Linked DNA regions of Homo sapiens: region 1 is linked to region 2. Evidence: fine-mapped expression QTL. Tissue or cell type: whole blood. Region 2 holds a variant in brackets; the other region holds the start of a gene. All regions are shown on one strand. Distances are between the middles of the regions.

Region 1 (8,000 bases), 24 kb after region 2:
CCATGGCAGATGACCCATTTTGACCCAAAGGGCCCCACAGTTCTCTTTCGGCTCCTGCTAGTTCTGCAAAGCCTCAGCACTGCTTTTTCTGTAGGCAGTTAATACTAATGCTAATTCAACAGGAAGTGGTATGGGGGTACAAGAGGCAGGATGTCTTCCTGTTGCCCAGTTATTTACAAAAAGGCAGATCTTCTCTCCAAGACTTCAAACGTTCCCCACAGGACTAACTTGTGCTCCTTTACAGGTAATGAGCTAATAAATTATTTCTGATCTCAAAGCTGTATAACAACTGAATTTGTTCAAAAGCCAAAAAAGTAGTAGAAATACAGTCTATACTGCCTGGTGCAGTTGCTCGCGCCTGTAATCCCTGAACTTTGGGAGGCCGAGGTGGGTAGATCACTTGAGGTCAAGAGTTCGAGACCAGCCTGGCCAACATGGTGAAATCCCTTGTCTCCTAATAGTACAAAAATTAGCCGGGCCATGGTGGCGGGCGCCTGTAATCCCAGCTACTCAGGAAGCTGAGGCAGGAGAACTGCTTGAACCCAGGAGGCAGAGGTTTCAGTGAAATCACACCATCGCACTCCAGCCTGGGCGACAGAGCGGACTGCTTCTCAAAAAAAAATAAAATAGATAAATAGGCCAGGCGCGGTAGCTCACGCCTGTAATCCCAGTGCTTTGGGGGGCCAAGGCGGGCAGATCATCTGAGGTCAGGAGTTTGAGACCAGCCTGGCCAACATGGTGAAACCCCATTTCTACTAAAAATACAAAAAAAAAAAAAAAATTAGCAGGGCGTGGTGGTGCGTGCCTGTAGTCCCAGGGAGGCTGAGCCAGGAGAATCACTTGAACCCAGGAGGCAAAGGTTGCAGTGAGCTGAGATCATTCCATTGCACTCCTGCTTGGGCAACAAAAGTGCAACTCCATCTCAGAAAAGTAATAATAATAATAGATAAATAAATGAAATACACTCTATACTAAACCCACACACCAAAAGAATAAAGAAATGCTTCCTATCATAGAACTTAGATCTGTCATGGAGTCAAAGATTTTAGAGTCAAAGTGACCCCAAGGGGCTAGGCTCTCTTTGGTTAATAAAAGTTTTCTTTCAAAACCAGAAAGAAAAATGATCACTTTCTCCTTATTTGCCCCGAGAAATTCACCACTAAAAAAACAGATTAGGATCAATATCAGATGTGCCTTGAATCTCGAGAACATTGTGACTCTAGTTGATGCACAAAGCATGGGGCAGACATTTAACATGCTCCCGCAGCCAGACGTTCTCAATGTGCCTGGCAGCAATGCCAAGTGGGTAGGTTCACAAAAGCAGAAACAGAAACCCTCTGGGTTTAGCCTTCCTATTTTTTCTTTTCTTTCTTTCTTTTTTTTTTTTTTTTTTTTTTTGAGATGGAGTTTCACTCTTGTTGCCCAGGCTGGAGTGCAATGGTGCAATCTCAGCTCACCGCAATCTCCGCCTCCCGGGTTCAAGCGATTCTCCTGCCTCAGCCTCCCGAGTACTGGAATTACAGGCATGCGCCACCACTCCCCGTTAATTTTGTATTTTTAGTAGAGACGGGTTTTCTCCAAATTGGTCAGGCTGGTCTCAAACTCCTGACCTCAGGTGATCCACCCGGCTTGGCCTCCCAAAGTGCTGGGATTACAGGCGTAAGCCACTGTGCCCGGCCAGCCATTCTACCTTTTCAAGTGAGTATTCATCAGATACATACAGGAAAATCTCCAGTTCACAACACTATTTTGTGTAAAACTGACTGGAAACATTACAAAACAAAACAAAACAAAAAAAACCTGTCTCTAGCCGGGTGCGGTGGCTCACGCCTGTAATCCCAACACTTTGGGAGGCCGAGGCAGGTGGATCACCTGAGGTCAGGAGCCCGAGACCAACCTGGCCAACATGGTGGAAGCCTATCTCTACTAAAAATACAAAAATTAGCTGGGTGGCCGGGCGCGGTGGCTCATGCCTGTAATCCCAGCACTTTGGGAGGCTGAGGCGGGCGGATCACAAGGTCAGGAGATCAAGACCATCCTGGCTAACACGGTGAAACCCCATCTCTCTTAAAAATTCAAACAAAAAAAAAATTAGCTGGGCATGGTGGCGGGCACCTGTAGTCCCAGCTACTAGGGAGGCTGAGGCAGGAGAATGGCGTGAACCCCGGAGGCGGAGCTTGCAGTGAGCCAAGATCGCACCACTGCACTCGAGCCTGGGTGACAGAGTGAGACTGTCTCAAAAAAAAAAAAAAAAAAAAAAAAAATTAGCTGGGTGTGGTGGCACATGCCTGTAATCCCAGCTACTAGGGAGGCTGAGGCAGGAGAATGGCGTGAACCCGGGAGGCGGAGCTTGCAGTGAGCCAAGATCGCACCACTGCACTCGAGCCTGGGTGACAGAGTGAGACTCTCTCAAAAAAAAAAAAAAAAAAATTAGCTGGGTGTGGTGGCACATGCCTGTAATCCCAGCTACTGGGGAGGCTGAGGCGGGAGAATCTCTTGAACCCAGGAGGCGGAGGCTGCAGTGAGCCAAGATTGCACCAATGCACTCCAGCCTGGGAGACAGAACCAGACTCCGTCTCAAAACAAACAAACAAAAAAAACTTGTCTCTAAATCTCCTGGACTTAACCATTCTATCTTGCGTAGTGTTACTCTTGGTCCTCCTAGGCTGATCCTAATAGTTAGCGCTAAATACCTTGGATGTTGATCCAAGAATCTTGAACATGAGTTAACAACACCTATGTACACCCACCCAACAAATTGGTTTAATTCATTGGCGGTTTACCAGATTCTTTTCATACTTGGCTACGAGATTCTCTAATTGTCATGTGTACAAATGGACCAAACTAACTCAGCAGTGAAACAGGTTCTTAGGTAAAGTACTCAGGAGTCCTATTCCAGGCTGTAAATCAGGCTAAGCTACAGTAAATGAAATACTTGGGAAAATGGCAGCTACACCCGCCAAGTCAGACTGAAGGGGGAAGAGACAGAAGGGAAAGAAACAGCCTCTGCTCTGAGGTTCTCATACAGAAAGGCCAGCACTTCTCTTCCTGGCAGGCCCAGGGATGACCATTTCTCTGCGCCCCTATGCCCACACCTCGGCCAAGAGCCCACAATAGTAACAATCTCGCTTTGACTTTTAGAAAAAAAATTTCCCCCGGATTCTTTCACTCCGTCCACACTCCAACCCCGCGGGGATCACGATCCCATTTTCTGGATAAACAGGGCAATGGAGATGAGCCTAAACCATGAGAACTGTCAGTCTTCGCCGCCAACGTCCACACGGATCAGCCTGAAACCCCAATACCAATTTTTTTTTCAACTCCCACATGTTCCTGAGAGGAACCAGATCAGGGCCCACGGCTGGCATGGAAACGAGAGGGAAAGGAGGGGGTGCTGCTGGGGACTGATGGATGAACCCATCCTTGGGTGAAGGGAGCGTCCAGCTTGGCCTTGAGGTCAGGAGGTGACAAAGGCACACTCCTGAGACCTGGCCTTCTACTCTGGGCAAGAAAGGGCTTTTCGCCCATCAGAAAGCCCATAGGATGCCCACCTGTGTCCACGAAGAACCCGGCTCAAGCACCCAAAGAAGTCAGGAAGGAGCCCCGCTCCCACCAGGGCATAAGTGGGGTGTCCCTCAGTGAGTCAGGGGGCACCCTTCCTCTGGACAGTGGGGGTTCCGCCCAGCCCAAGGGGCCGTCCCCCGAGACCTGTCACCCGGCCCTCGAGGGGCTCCCTCCCCGCCAGTGCTGAGGACGCGCGCAGCCTACCTGGAGCTCGCCCTCGGTGCGGTGCAGTCCCAGGCGCCGCAGCCCCACCGCCAGGTCGTTGACACACAGGCCGCCGTCCCGGTTGACGTCGAGCGTCTGAAAGAGTCTCCACAGGCGCAGCCGGTGGTCCGGGCCCCCGCAGATAGCGCCGCCGCAGGGGTCCCCCACGGACGCCGGCGATGAGGCAGACGAAGAGGCGGCGGTGGCGGCGGCGTCCGGCGGCGGGGAGGCCACACAGCGGCACAACACACTGCTCACCATCGGGCGCGAGGCAGGGGCTCCGGGCGCGGGCGGGAGCGGGGGCGGCGGGCCGGCGGTGACCGCGCGGGAGGCAAGCCAGGCGCTCTGCAGCTGGGAGCGCGGGCTCGGAGACGCCGGCAAGCTGGCGGAAGGGGCGGCTTCCGGGAGCCCCGCCCCTCCGCGCCCCGCTTCGCCGGCCACGCCCGGGCGCACCGAAGGCCAGTCACAGGCTCGGATGGGGAGGAGGGAGGGGCGGAGCCTGTCTAAGGACAGCCCACGCGCCACGGACTACCCGGATCAATGGGGTGGGCGGGGTCACCCGGCTCCGCCTGGGGCCGATTCAAACTGAGGGAGGCGGGGATTGGCTGAGCCGGGGGCCAAGAGAGAGAAAATCACGCAGCGATAGGCATGAGTAATGTGATTGGCAGGCGGAAGGCCCCGTGTCCAGTTTCCATTGATGAACTAACTCTGTTTAGACTGCGGGATCTTAAGGATGGGAGGAGCGGTAGTGTACGGAGAGATCGTAGCCTCCAGTGGGAAACAGGATTTGTGTGAGAGCATTTGTGAACTGCAGTTGCGAGGCAGAGTTTGTGCCGGTGGGAGGAATTAAAAGTTAATTGACCCATGGGTCACGGCCGAAAGCACTAAGTATCCTCAGGAAGCAGGGTTTTGGTAATCTAACTCCCTAAACCACCAATAAAATAGCTGAATTTAACGGCTTAATAGTCGTAATACTGACAATTGAACGACAGAATGATTTTCCAATGGAAGTGAATAAAGGTTAGGTGGGCGGGGCCCTCTGGGCGACGGACACAATTTTAGACCAATGATCAGGCGAATTACAGTAAGCAGGCGTGCTCTTTAGCTGAGCGACAGATCGAAAGAACCAGTGATCGACGTGATATTTGAGCAGCTACCAACCGGGAAGGCCGGTTTTCCCGGAGAAGCGCTGGGAGGCGGGAAGAGGGGAAGTGGGCGGATCTCCGCACACCTCGGCGGAAGAGGCAGATTCAGGAAGCCATTACGCTGCTGGCTGGCAGCGGCCGGGCCGGTCGGGGCTGGGCCCTACGCACTTTGCGTAGCGAGGGGGGTTACCAAAGGCCTAGTGCTTGGCCTCGAGCAAGCCTGGCCTATCCCCTGTAGGGGGTGGGTGAGGGGCGAGGCTGAGGAAGAAGAGAAGGGGAATTGGGGCGCTTGAGGGGATTATAATTTCTTTAAAAAGAGGGGAGGGGAGAGGCCATGGCCGTCCCAGCCAAGAAAAGGAAGATGAACTTCTCAGAGCGGGAGGTGGAGATCATCGTGGAGGAGCTGGAGCTGAAGAAGCACCTGCTGGTGAACCACTTCAACGCCGGGGTACCCCTGGCCGCCAAGAGTGCGGCCTGGCACGGCATCCTGAGAAGGGTCAACGCCGTGGCCACCTGCCGCAGAGAGCTGCCTGAGGTCAAGAAGAAGTGGTCTGACCTCAAGACCGAGGTCCGTCGCAAGGTTGCCCAGGTCCGGGCCGCCGTGGAGGGTGGTGAGGCGCCGGGGCCCACTGAGGAGGACGGAGCTGGGGGGCCTGGGACAGGCGGTGGCAGTGGTGGCGGTGGCCCAGCTGTAGCCCCAGTGCTGCTGACCCCCATGCAACAACGTATCTGCAACCTGCTGGGCGAGGCCACCATCATCAGCCTGCCCAGCACCACAGAGATCCACCCTGTGGCCCTCGGACCCTCGGCCACCGCAGCCGCAGCCACGGTCACCCTGACACAGAGTGAGTGACCTCTCCTGCCCAGGCGGCGTGCATAAGTGGGAAGGGCCAGCAAGCTCTGGGGTGGCCTGGGGAAGGTTGGCTGCCAAGGGTCAGAGGTCAGATGGGGGTCTTGGAAGACCATGAGGCCTTCCAAGAGCAGCACCCAGACAGAAGTGATCTTGCTCTCTTTGGGACTTCCTCAGCACGTGGGCTGGACTTCTGACGTGCTGGATAGCTCGCCACTGAGCATTGCCACCATGTTTGTCCATGACTTACCTCCACTTGCCGAACTGGGTGGTCCTTGAAAACAAGAGACCGTGTCTGTATCCCCACAGGACTTTTCACAGGGCCCGGCTTGTAGTAGACAGCCAGGCCATATTTGTTGAAAAAATTGATGGGAATAATACTGCCCAAGTGAGACAACGATTCTGGATTCTGTTTTCAGTGTGGGGGATCTTTCATCAGGTGCTGCTCAGGAGCCTCATGGTTCCTGGTGTTAATCTACTCCATTCATTCATTCATTCATTCATCAAACATTAGCACTTATTCTGTACCAAACCCTGTGCTGGGCACTGGGATTACCAAGTTGTCTAAAATACAGGCCAGTTATGTTCTAGTAGGACAGAGATGACACATATAGGAATAGCTTCGCCATCAGTTGGGAAAACCTCAGGCCCCGGAAGAGGAAGGGGGCTTCTTGGTGGCATAAGGACACATAGCTGACATTGGCGTTGAAGGGTGGAGGAGCTTGACCTCTCCCACATGCGCGGAGGCCCATACAGCCCAGCCAGGATCCTTTCCGTGGTTCTCAGGAATGACAACAGAACTAACTTTGGTTGGATTTTTTAGTTCAAAGAAGAGTTTGTGCCCTGTTACCTCTGCTCGTTTGTGATGACCGTGAGCTGGATCATTCAGTGATTCTCAGTGGGGGTTGGGGGAGTTGGGTGGATGTGCGAGTGCCATCCCCTCACAATGCGTATTTCTCAAGAATACACTGGGGTGGGGTAAGGGGGACAAACACGGGTCTAGGTCAGATGCTGTTCTGGAACAGGAAGGATGTTTAAGTATCGGATTGACCCAGATGATGACAGACAGGGAGACATTGACTGGGTACTTTAGCTACTGCTGCCCCATTCCCACCTCCTTTTCTGCTTCGCCATAGGGGCCTAGGAAGTCAAGTCAAGAAAGCATCAAAGGGCTGGCATGGTGGCTCACTCCTGTAATCCCAGCACTTTGGGAGGCTGAGGTGGGCAGATCAGTGGAGGTCAGGAGTTCGAGACAAGCCTGGCCAATATGGTGAAACCCTGTCTCTACTAAAAATACAAAAATTACCCAGGCTTGGAGGTGGGCGACTGTAGTCCCAGCTACTCGGGAGGCTGAGGCACAACAATCACTTGAACCTGGGAGGCAGAAGTTGCAGTGAGCCGAGATCGTGCCACTGAACTCCAACCTGGGTAACAGGGCAAAAGAGCAAAACTCCGTCTCAAAAAAAAAAAAAAAAGCAGAAAGCATCAAAGGAGGTAGGACTAATGTGGCTGCAAAGAGCGTGTGTAGAGTCCCACCCAAGATGCCTGCTGCATGGTACCACAGAGAGCATGTGACCCAGCCTCTGGGGTGCCTTTCTTTCTTTCTTTCTTTTATGAGATGGAGTTTTGCTCTTGTTGCCCAGGCTGGAGTGCAATGGCATGATCTCGGCTCACTGCTGCCTCAGCCTCCCAAGTAGCTGGGATTACAGGCATGCGCCACCATGCCCGGCTAATTTTGTATTTTTAATAGAGACGAGGTTTCTCCATGTTGGTCAGGCTGGTCTCGAACTCCTGACCTCAGGTAATCCACCCACCTCGGCCTCCCAAAGTGCTGGGATTACAAGCGTGAGCCACCGCGCCCGGCCGGGGGTGCCTTTCTTAGCTAGGAGCAGCCCAGCGTGGAGGTCAGGAGCACATCGGGCTCTGCTGTTGGGGAGACCTGGGTTTGCCTCTTGGCTCTGCTGAATGAGCTCTGTGACCTTAGCAAGTCATTCTACATTTCTCAGTCTGTTTCCTCATCTCTGAAAAATGAAGATGACAGCACCAACCTCTTGGTGTCATTTTGAGGATTTGTTGAGCTAATGAGTACAAAGTGCCTGACATGTAGTAGTTGCTCTAAAAGTTTTGCTAGTATTATGATCAACATCTTTGCTTTTGCCAGATCCAGGGCTGGCCCTTTGATTACCAAGTAGATTAAGATTCTGAACCCCGGCCAGGCGCGGTGGCTCACGCCTGTA
Region 2 (8,000 bases):
TATTTTAAAGGAGGTTCACATTTATAAATAAAAGCTGAACCCTAAAATGCTGGTCTTTAGGAATGCTCACTCTACTTTATAAAATGAGATGTTGCCCTATTAAAAAAAATGCTGGTCTTCCTTTGTTAAATTATTGTTTGCTTCTGAAACTAAATTATACAGATCTGTTGAATATCTCATTTTAGTGATGACTGCAGTCATTCTAATATAAAAAAGCAAATATTTTGACTGAATAAGTTCAATTGGAGATTTCACTTTCTATTAAAGTATATTTTAAAAATAATTATGGCACATATTACTGTACCATTGAGTTTTATAATGTATTTAACAAAAGAAATCTGAGATTTGAAAATGATACTAAATAAAAGTGAAACCTGTATTCTTCTTCTTTTTTCTTTGTCTTTCCTAAGATGGAGTCTTGCTCTGTCGCCCAGGCTGGAGTGCAGTGGCGCGATCTTGGCTCACTACAACCTCCACCTCCTGGGTTCAAGCGATTCTCCTGCCTCAGCCTCCCGAGTAGCTGGGACTACAGGTGCCCACGAGCACACCCAGCTAATTTTTAAAAGGGTTCTAACTTATTTGCTGCTGTGACTGAGTCTCATGGAATGTCTTCATTGGATAAACTTCAATTGGCATTTGGTTTTTTAAATCATCCATCCTACTGAGTTTCACAGGTAACTCAAGACTCCATGTTCATATAAAAATGGAGAGTTCTACCCAAATAAGCCCATCTCTAGGTGCTAGTGTCCAGGACAACTGCTGTATTCCTGGAACTGCAGACTGTGGGGGCCCAGAGGGGCTCTGGGATCATCCCTTAATCTCCGAGTTGAGCAAACAGGCCTGGGAGAGGCGACCTGATTTGCCCAATTCCCAAAGCCTGTCAAGGGCAGGGCAGGGCCTTGCACCCAGGGTTCTTGTTACAACATCCACTTCAAACAGCACCCAAAACAGATTTTAGTATTCAGTTCCCAAAGGATGCCGGTAAGCCAGACAGTAGGTGATACCTCATACTGGAAGGCGGCAGGTGTGTGGGAAAGGTGTAACTTGAGCAAGTTGAGCCCTAGCTAAATACAACCAAAAACGGTGTTTGTGTCACAGCTTCTGAATGCCTCTGTGAGAACTAGATTATGGAGGAACTAAAGCAGGCCTCGGGTTTCAGCCCTGATGCTTCACACCGGCCTTCTTGACACTCCAAGATCTGGGCACAACGCGCATTGTGTGCGATGCCTCGCTGCTCTTTATTATTCTGACTTTGTGGCACAGACCCTCATCTGTTTCAGCTCCTCCGATGTCCATTCCTATGACTAGTATTCGGAAACAGTGACAGCAACACTAGGTCCCTTAGGATTCAGTGGCATCAGATTGCAATTAATCTATAAAGTAGCAGTTCCTCTCCTGAGCATCTTCTCACAGCAAATCTGCCAATGCCACCAAAAGCTTTCCTTGTTCTACCACTATGTTACATGCCAGAAGAAAGCAGGTGCTTCAGGTAAAGGCCGGAATACCATGAATAAGAACAGGGCAGGTACAGTGCCTCTGGGAGTGTAGCATTAGGTCAGAAAGTTCCTCTCCCCTCCTCTGCAATGACTCAGGCTGAGCCAGAAATATTAATATGAGGAAGCTTTGCCAGCATCCAGCCGCTCAAGCCCCACCCACCCTTAAGGCTCTCAAACCTCATTGGCGGCTGTGGCCACAGTGTCATTTGATGATCAGGTTGCCATGACAGCCTAGTGTAGCCAGTTTCCAATGAAACCTGCCTACACTTGGCAGTTACACACACAATAAGCAAAATTCTCTGTGCTTCCGAGAAGACAGCCCCTCAGGATTTGAAAGCTTGAATGCCGCTGAGGGCACCTCCCACTCCAGAGTAATGGCTTTCTTCTCCAACTGAAGATTAACTGTAAGACAAAGATAAAGGGAAAAACTGGAACAGTTCCTAGAATAAAAGCTTGCAGGAACCTGACTCACTAGCAGACATATTTAAACAGGGGAAGTGAGAGCAAAACAAAGTAGTGCTTCTGGGACACTGAGAAGCCCGAGAACCAAAGTGAACTTTTCTTTTTTTCTTTTAAACAGAGTCTTGCTCTGTCACCCAGGCTGGAGTACAGCGGCACAATCTTGGCTCACTGCAACCTCCGCCTCCTGGATTCAAGCGATTCTCCTGTCTCAGCCTCCTGAGTAGCTGGGAGTACAGGCACGCACCACCACGCCCAGCTAATTTTTGTATTTTTAGTAGAGACGGGGTTTCACCATATTGGCCAGGCTGGTCTCAAACTCCTGACCTCGTGATCTGTCCACCTCAGACTCCCAAAGTGCTGGGATTACAGGCATGAGCCACTGCGCCTGGCCTAAAGTGAACTTTTCAAAAATGTTTCCAGAACATTCTGGAGGTCCTTTTTGTGATTTGGTGAGGCCAGCCCCAATCAGCCAGTGATCACAAACCCCAAACACCTTCAGAGCACTGTTCTGGAAAAGGATGCGGGCTGCATCCATGTTCCTGTTACTCCAGTTCTTGGTCTATCTGCTTTGAGAGTCTATGCTTCTCAGATTTGCTTTCTCTCTGGCTTCAAGCCCAACCAGCTGCCCCATATCCCACTTGGGGCTCCCCCAGTTTGCAGCCAGCTGAACTGTCTCTCTTTTGGGGATCAGCCAGTAAAAGGTGTGGGTCTCTTGATTCTGCAGGCCAGGAACTAAGCTGTTCAGAACAGACAGTCCTATCCTAGGCAGTCCCTGGGGGGAGAGCTGGCAAGGGGGTACTGTATGATGCTGAAAAATAGAGCAGTTAACTGCTAAAGACAAAAATAGGTGATTTTAAAAGGAGCCGGCCATTCGAGGTAGTAATAAGGCAAGCAGGTCTATAGATAAAAGTTCCTCACAAAGCTAGTGCCACAGCCATTCCAATCTTGTCTAAAACAATCAAAAGGTACAAAGTGACACCCTCTCTTTGAATATTAAGCAAAGACATCTCAGGCATAACAGTCTCTGAGAGACCCACTGCTTTGCTCAGAAGGAACCCATCAAAGACGAAGACTTCTCCCCAGTGCCCACATGACTGCAAATGTTATTACATCAAAAGTCCCTAGTAGCAAAGGCAAAATGAGCTTTTATTTCTTAAATGTAGCAATTCATCTTAACATCTCTGTGGTATCTATAATGTGCCAAACGGGCAGAATCTCCTTTTCTTCTCTGATTTTTCTCCTAAGTAAAAAGATTGAAAATAACCAAAGCTCAGGAGGTGAACGAGGTCACTCCTACAGCAGGGAGGAGAAATCTGAGCCAAGTGGCAATTTCCTTTCTAATACTGAGCACTCCATTAGTCTCCTTAAAAACTGCTTTCCTAAGGGGAAAACGAGGCAGCACAGGACAAGGATTTGGGGGTGAAATCTCAGCTCCACCTCTCTTTAGTTGTTTAACCCTGGGCAAATAATGTAACCATTCTGCACCTCAGTTTCTTCATCTACGAAATGGGGATACTACCACTTACCTTGGCTCTTGTGAGGATGGTAACTCACGCTCTGGGCTCAGGAAGGATGAAAGACCCCACAGTTGGCAGACCCGCAGCGGCCGCAGTCATTTCCAGAGGGGCACCAGCCTCTGCGCCTCATGACTCCAGCCTCTCCTCGGACCCAGTCTCATGCCTTCACTCTTCCTCCCAGACCCAAAGGAGAGATGGGTCGGACCCAGGCAAGGGGACTGTGACCTTCAGGATGCCAAGACCACCCCCACAGCTCCAAGCAACTGGGTTCCACGGTCGAGGCACACTCTCTCGCCCCTTTAGCTTCGCCCTTCCTGAGCTGTTCGGATAAGCTAAGGCACACTTTCACAGGCTGCCCCTCACTTTCAAATGGCTTTCTTCAGCCAAACTAACAAATCCTAAGGCAAGTCTATTGCAACCTTCCTTCCCTCAACAGCCACACTGGGGTGCTCGCAGTGGGTAATGCAGCTTTCACAGGGGCCACAGAAAGATTTTAGATTGCATTTGTGGGCTTCCTCATTGCCTACCACTTCTCCCTGAACCCCGAACTAACGTTGTGAGTTCTCCCTTCCTCCCCACACTCGTTTTTTCCCCAGGAAAATGATCCCAGACCAGGCCCTAAACTAGGAGGTCCTCTTGAGGCCAACATTACCTTAGGAAACTGCTCTGCAGGTCCAACCACCAGCAAAATGGTGGGTCTTTTTTCCGTGGCCTCAGCCCTTCCGTCCTGTTTCCCCAAAAAGCTTGCCATCTGGTCTCTCCAGGCAGGGGCTGGGGTGCCTCTGACTTCACGATCGTCCCCCTCTCTGGAGCCGTGGCACCCAGCCCTGGGGAAAAAGCTAGCTAGGAAATGCCACAGCATCTGCAACATCACGGTCTCCTCCAAACGCCTCTGATGGCGACTGTTCACTTTTGAGGGATGTGACCACAGTACCAA[C/G]GCTCTCTGGCTACACAGCTGCTGGGAGGACGGGCCTGGGGTTCTCAGGCTGGAAGCTCTGCATGCAGGGGCGGTTTCCTGCTTTTTCAAATGTGCTAGCACTGCTGTCGTGCCCGGCCTGAGAAGTAGCTCACTCTAAGGGAGGCTTGCCAGGCTGCCGGCAATAAGGAGAAAGCAGCTGGAGCTTCTTCAATAAAAACTCACTTCTGCAGGTGATGGTGAGCAAACGTTTGGCTTTTTTTTAAAAAAAAAAAAAAAGAAAAGGAAAACGCGACAGCCAAGCAGACCACTCCCGGAGGCAGCAAGCAACTTCGAGCTCCCAGTTATTCAGCTGTCCTCGCTCATCACCCAAGCCGAGGACCCGAGCATCCAGTCTGCATTCTCACTGCAGCAGAGCCCGGCCAATCACCTCTGCCGACACTACCAAGTTCATTATCCCTACCAGCACCAGCCCTCCAATCACAGGCAGCTGATTGCCTGCATGAAGCCCGGCAATTCTGCAGGGAGGTGCGGACTCAAGCTCCAGATGAGGCTCAGCTTACAGAATCCACTCTGAGCTGGCTCCGTAGCAAAAGTAACTCCCTGCCCTCCACTCGGGTTGCTTCCAGAAGGCATTCACCATCAAGTGCAACACCATCAAGAGTCCTTGGCAGCATGTCCTAAGAGCATTCTAGAAACATTTTTCCTTGTTTCAAGATCCAGTTTTCTCCAGCAGAGCACATGCCACATCACAGCAGCTACTTCTGCTGCGTCTCCCTCCAGAAGATGAGCTGCCTGGGGGCAGGGACCAAGTCACAGACCTTTCTACCCCTAGGACCAGGCACAGATTAAGTCTGTAGACCGAACTGAGTAAAAGGTCATAAATAAAAAGGAATTAATCTATGGTCATTTGTTTCTTAGTTTACTAACAGATAAATGCACTGGCTACTGTCATTCCTCGCTGAGGTGACCCTCTGATAGTGTTCACAACCTTTATTGATTGATTGATTGATTGAGATGGAGTCTCGCTCTGTCATCCAGGCTGGAGCGCAGTGGGTCGCTCTTGGCTCAACGCAACCTCCACCTCCCAGGTTCAAGCGAATTCTCCTGCCTCAGCCTCCCAAGTACCTGGGATTACAGGCACCTGCCACCATGCCTATCTAATGTTTGTATTTTTAGTAGAGACGGGGTTTCACCATGTTGACCAGGCTGGTCTCAAACTCCTGACCTCAAGTGATCCATCCACCTTGGCCTCCCAAAGTGCTGGGATTACAGGAGCGAGCCACCGCGCATGGCCCCACAACCATTATTTTAAAAATACAAACACAAGGCCGGATGTGGTGGCTCATGCCTATAATCCCAGCACTTTGGGAGGCCAAGGCAGGCGGAGTTCAAGACCAGCCTGGCCAACATGGTGAAACCCCGTCTCTACTAAAAATAGAAAAATTAGCCGGGCATGGTGGCAGGCGCCTGTAATCCCAGCTACTTGGGAGGCTGAGGCAGGAGAATCACTTGAACCCAGGAGGCGGAGGTTGCAGTGAGCCAAGATTGCACCATTGCACTCCAGCCTGGGTGACAAGAGCGAAATTTCATCTCAAAAACAAAAAACAAAAAAAAACCAACTTGTTAAATGACAAAGTATAGAAGAAAGGGGATTGTGTGCTGCCATTTATTCCTAGCTTTTATTTGTGAAGACGGCCTCTGGAAAGATAATTAAATTGAAGAGAGGGTGTGGGGCGGGGAGGACACTTGGGGCTTTGAGAGGAGAAAGGCAGATGAGAGACGTGTTTTCACCGAACATCCTCTTATATCTTGCGAAACTGAACCATAAGCATGTATGACCCAGGCATACACACATACACATGTAAATAAAACAATCATTGAAAAAGAAGGCCGAGCGCAGTGGCTTACACCTGTAATTCCAGTACTTTGGGAGATGGAGGTGGGCCAACTGCCTGAGCCGACGAGTCTGAGACCAGCCTGGACAATGTGGAGAAACCTGCCTCTTCAAAAAGTAAAAAAAAAATAGCCAGGCATCGTGGTGCCTGTTGTAGTCCCAGCTACTCAGGAGGCTGAGAGGTGGGAGGATCACTTGAGCATGGGTGGTCAAGGCTGCAGTGAGCCATCATCGTGCCACTGCAGTCCAACCTGGGTGACAGGGAGATCCTGTCTCAAAAAAAAAAAAAAAAAAGACAATCTGGAGAGAAAGTAAGATGGTTGAGATGGGGTCCTAAGGCTTGTTCTGAAAGCTGAAGGAGCCTGTATCAGTTGCCCTCTCACTAGATAAACAGAACTTGTCCAGAAGCAGTTTTGCATGTTGATTAAATGCACAGTCACTGGAGCCAGACCCCAAATTCCAATCCTGGCCATCACTTATTAGCTGTGTAATCTTGGCTAAGATACTTCAGCTCTCTGTGCTTCACTAGCCTTATGTGCAAAATGGAGTTAGTACTTCATAGAATTGGTTAAAGACTAAATTAGAGAATATATAAAGTTCTTAGGACAGTACATGGAGCTATTAGCTATTTTATTATTATTATCTACAAAATGATTGCGATTCATGCAACTAGATCATTTTAATACTAAAGAAGAGCCAGTCCACAGCCAAAAACCCTAAGTAAATAAAAATCCTTTGGCCAGGAGTGGTGGTTCACGTCTGTAATCCCAGCACTTTTGGGAGGCCAAGGCAGGTCTTTTGAGCCCAGAGTTTGAGACCGGCATGGCCAACATAATGTGACTCTGTCTCTACAAAAAAATCAAAAATTAGCTGAGCATGGTGGTGCGCACCTGTAGTCCCAGCTACACGGGAGGCTGAGGTGGGAGAATCACCTGAGCCTGGGAAGTGGAGGCTGCAGCCTGGCTGACAGAGTGAGACCCTGCCTCAAAAATAAATAAATAAATCCTTTAATGAATGTGAGCCCTGTTTTTAGGCACAGAAAGTCTGGCCAGATGGAGGAGATAGTGATGTTTTGGCCTCCCATCTACACACATAAGAGAAATCCCTTATTTAGTAGATTACCGCTTTTTGATTTAATGCACTTCCTCCTACCACAGAACTGAGTTATGAGTTCAAGGGCTTCCGGCAAAGATAGGAGTAACAGGGACTAAGTCACCTTCCTGCCTATAACTACAAGTGCAAACAAAACATAGAAAACAATCTTTCCCAGCCGCTGGACAACAGGCTAAGGACACTGATTCCTGAGAAATGTATACAATGTATACAAACGAAGCCAGGAGCGCCTCCCATTGCCCCAGCTTCCTGCCTGGAGCTTCCAGTCTAGGTGCAGAGCAGAGAAGCCAGGTGGAACCCAGCAGCCTCCTGATGTTCAAGAGATGGGGCTGAGAGGCTGGGGAGGCCAGGCCAGGGCAGCTAGAGTGTGCCAGACAAAGCGCCGGAGAGGAGAGAGCTGCACAGGGAGTGAGCTCCCCCAAGGGTCCCCAGGGAGTCACAGCGCATGGGTGGGAGGAACCTACCTGAGCATGGGGAAAGAACCATCCCAAAGGATTACAGGGCTAGGAATAGTTCCCGTTCCTGTCAGCCAGAGTGGAAAACCTCAGAATACAGGGAGGTTCAGAAAGAGTGCTCAGAGGGTTTTGCCTCTACAGTGA

The links. PIP is the estimated chance that this variant, and not a neighbour inherited with it, causes the effect.
Region 1: SLC25A25 starts here. The variant in region 2 is fine-mapped to the expression of SLC25A25 in whole blood (TOPMed, PIP above 0.99).

The regions. Positions count from the first base shown.
Region 1 is chr9:128,064,349-128,072,348 of GRCh38, reverse strand. SLC25A25 (solute carrier family 25 member 25) reads right to left here and starts at 4,117. Exons shown (of 11, transcript NM_001330988.2): 1 at 3,769-4,117. The coding sequence starts at 4,029. NAIF1 (nuclear apoptosis inducing factor 1) reads left to right here and starts at 5,029. Exons shown (of 2, transcript NM_197956.4): 1 at 5,029-5,758. The coding sequence starts at 5,248. RefSeq lists enhancers at 3,011-3,090, 4,841-5,170 and a silencer at 3,821-4,390.
Region 2 is chr9:128,088,217-128,096,216 of GRCh38, reverse strand. All of the region lies in intron 1 of SLC25A25 (solute carrier family 25 member 25), which reads right to left. Among named protein-coding and RNA genes, the nearest start is that of SLC25A25, 24 kb to the right of the region's middle. RefSeq lists enhancers at 3,746-4,266, 4,267-4,787. The variant C/G (reference allele first, on the strand shown) is at 4,413.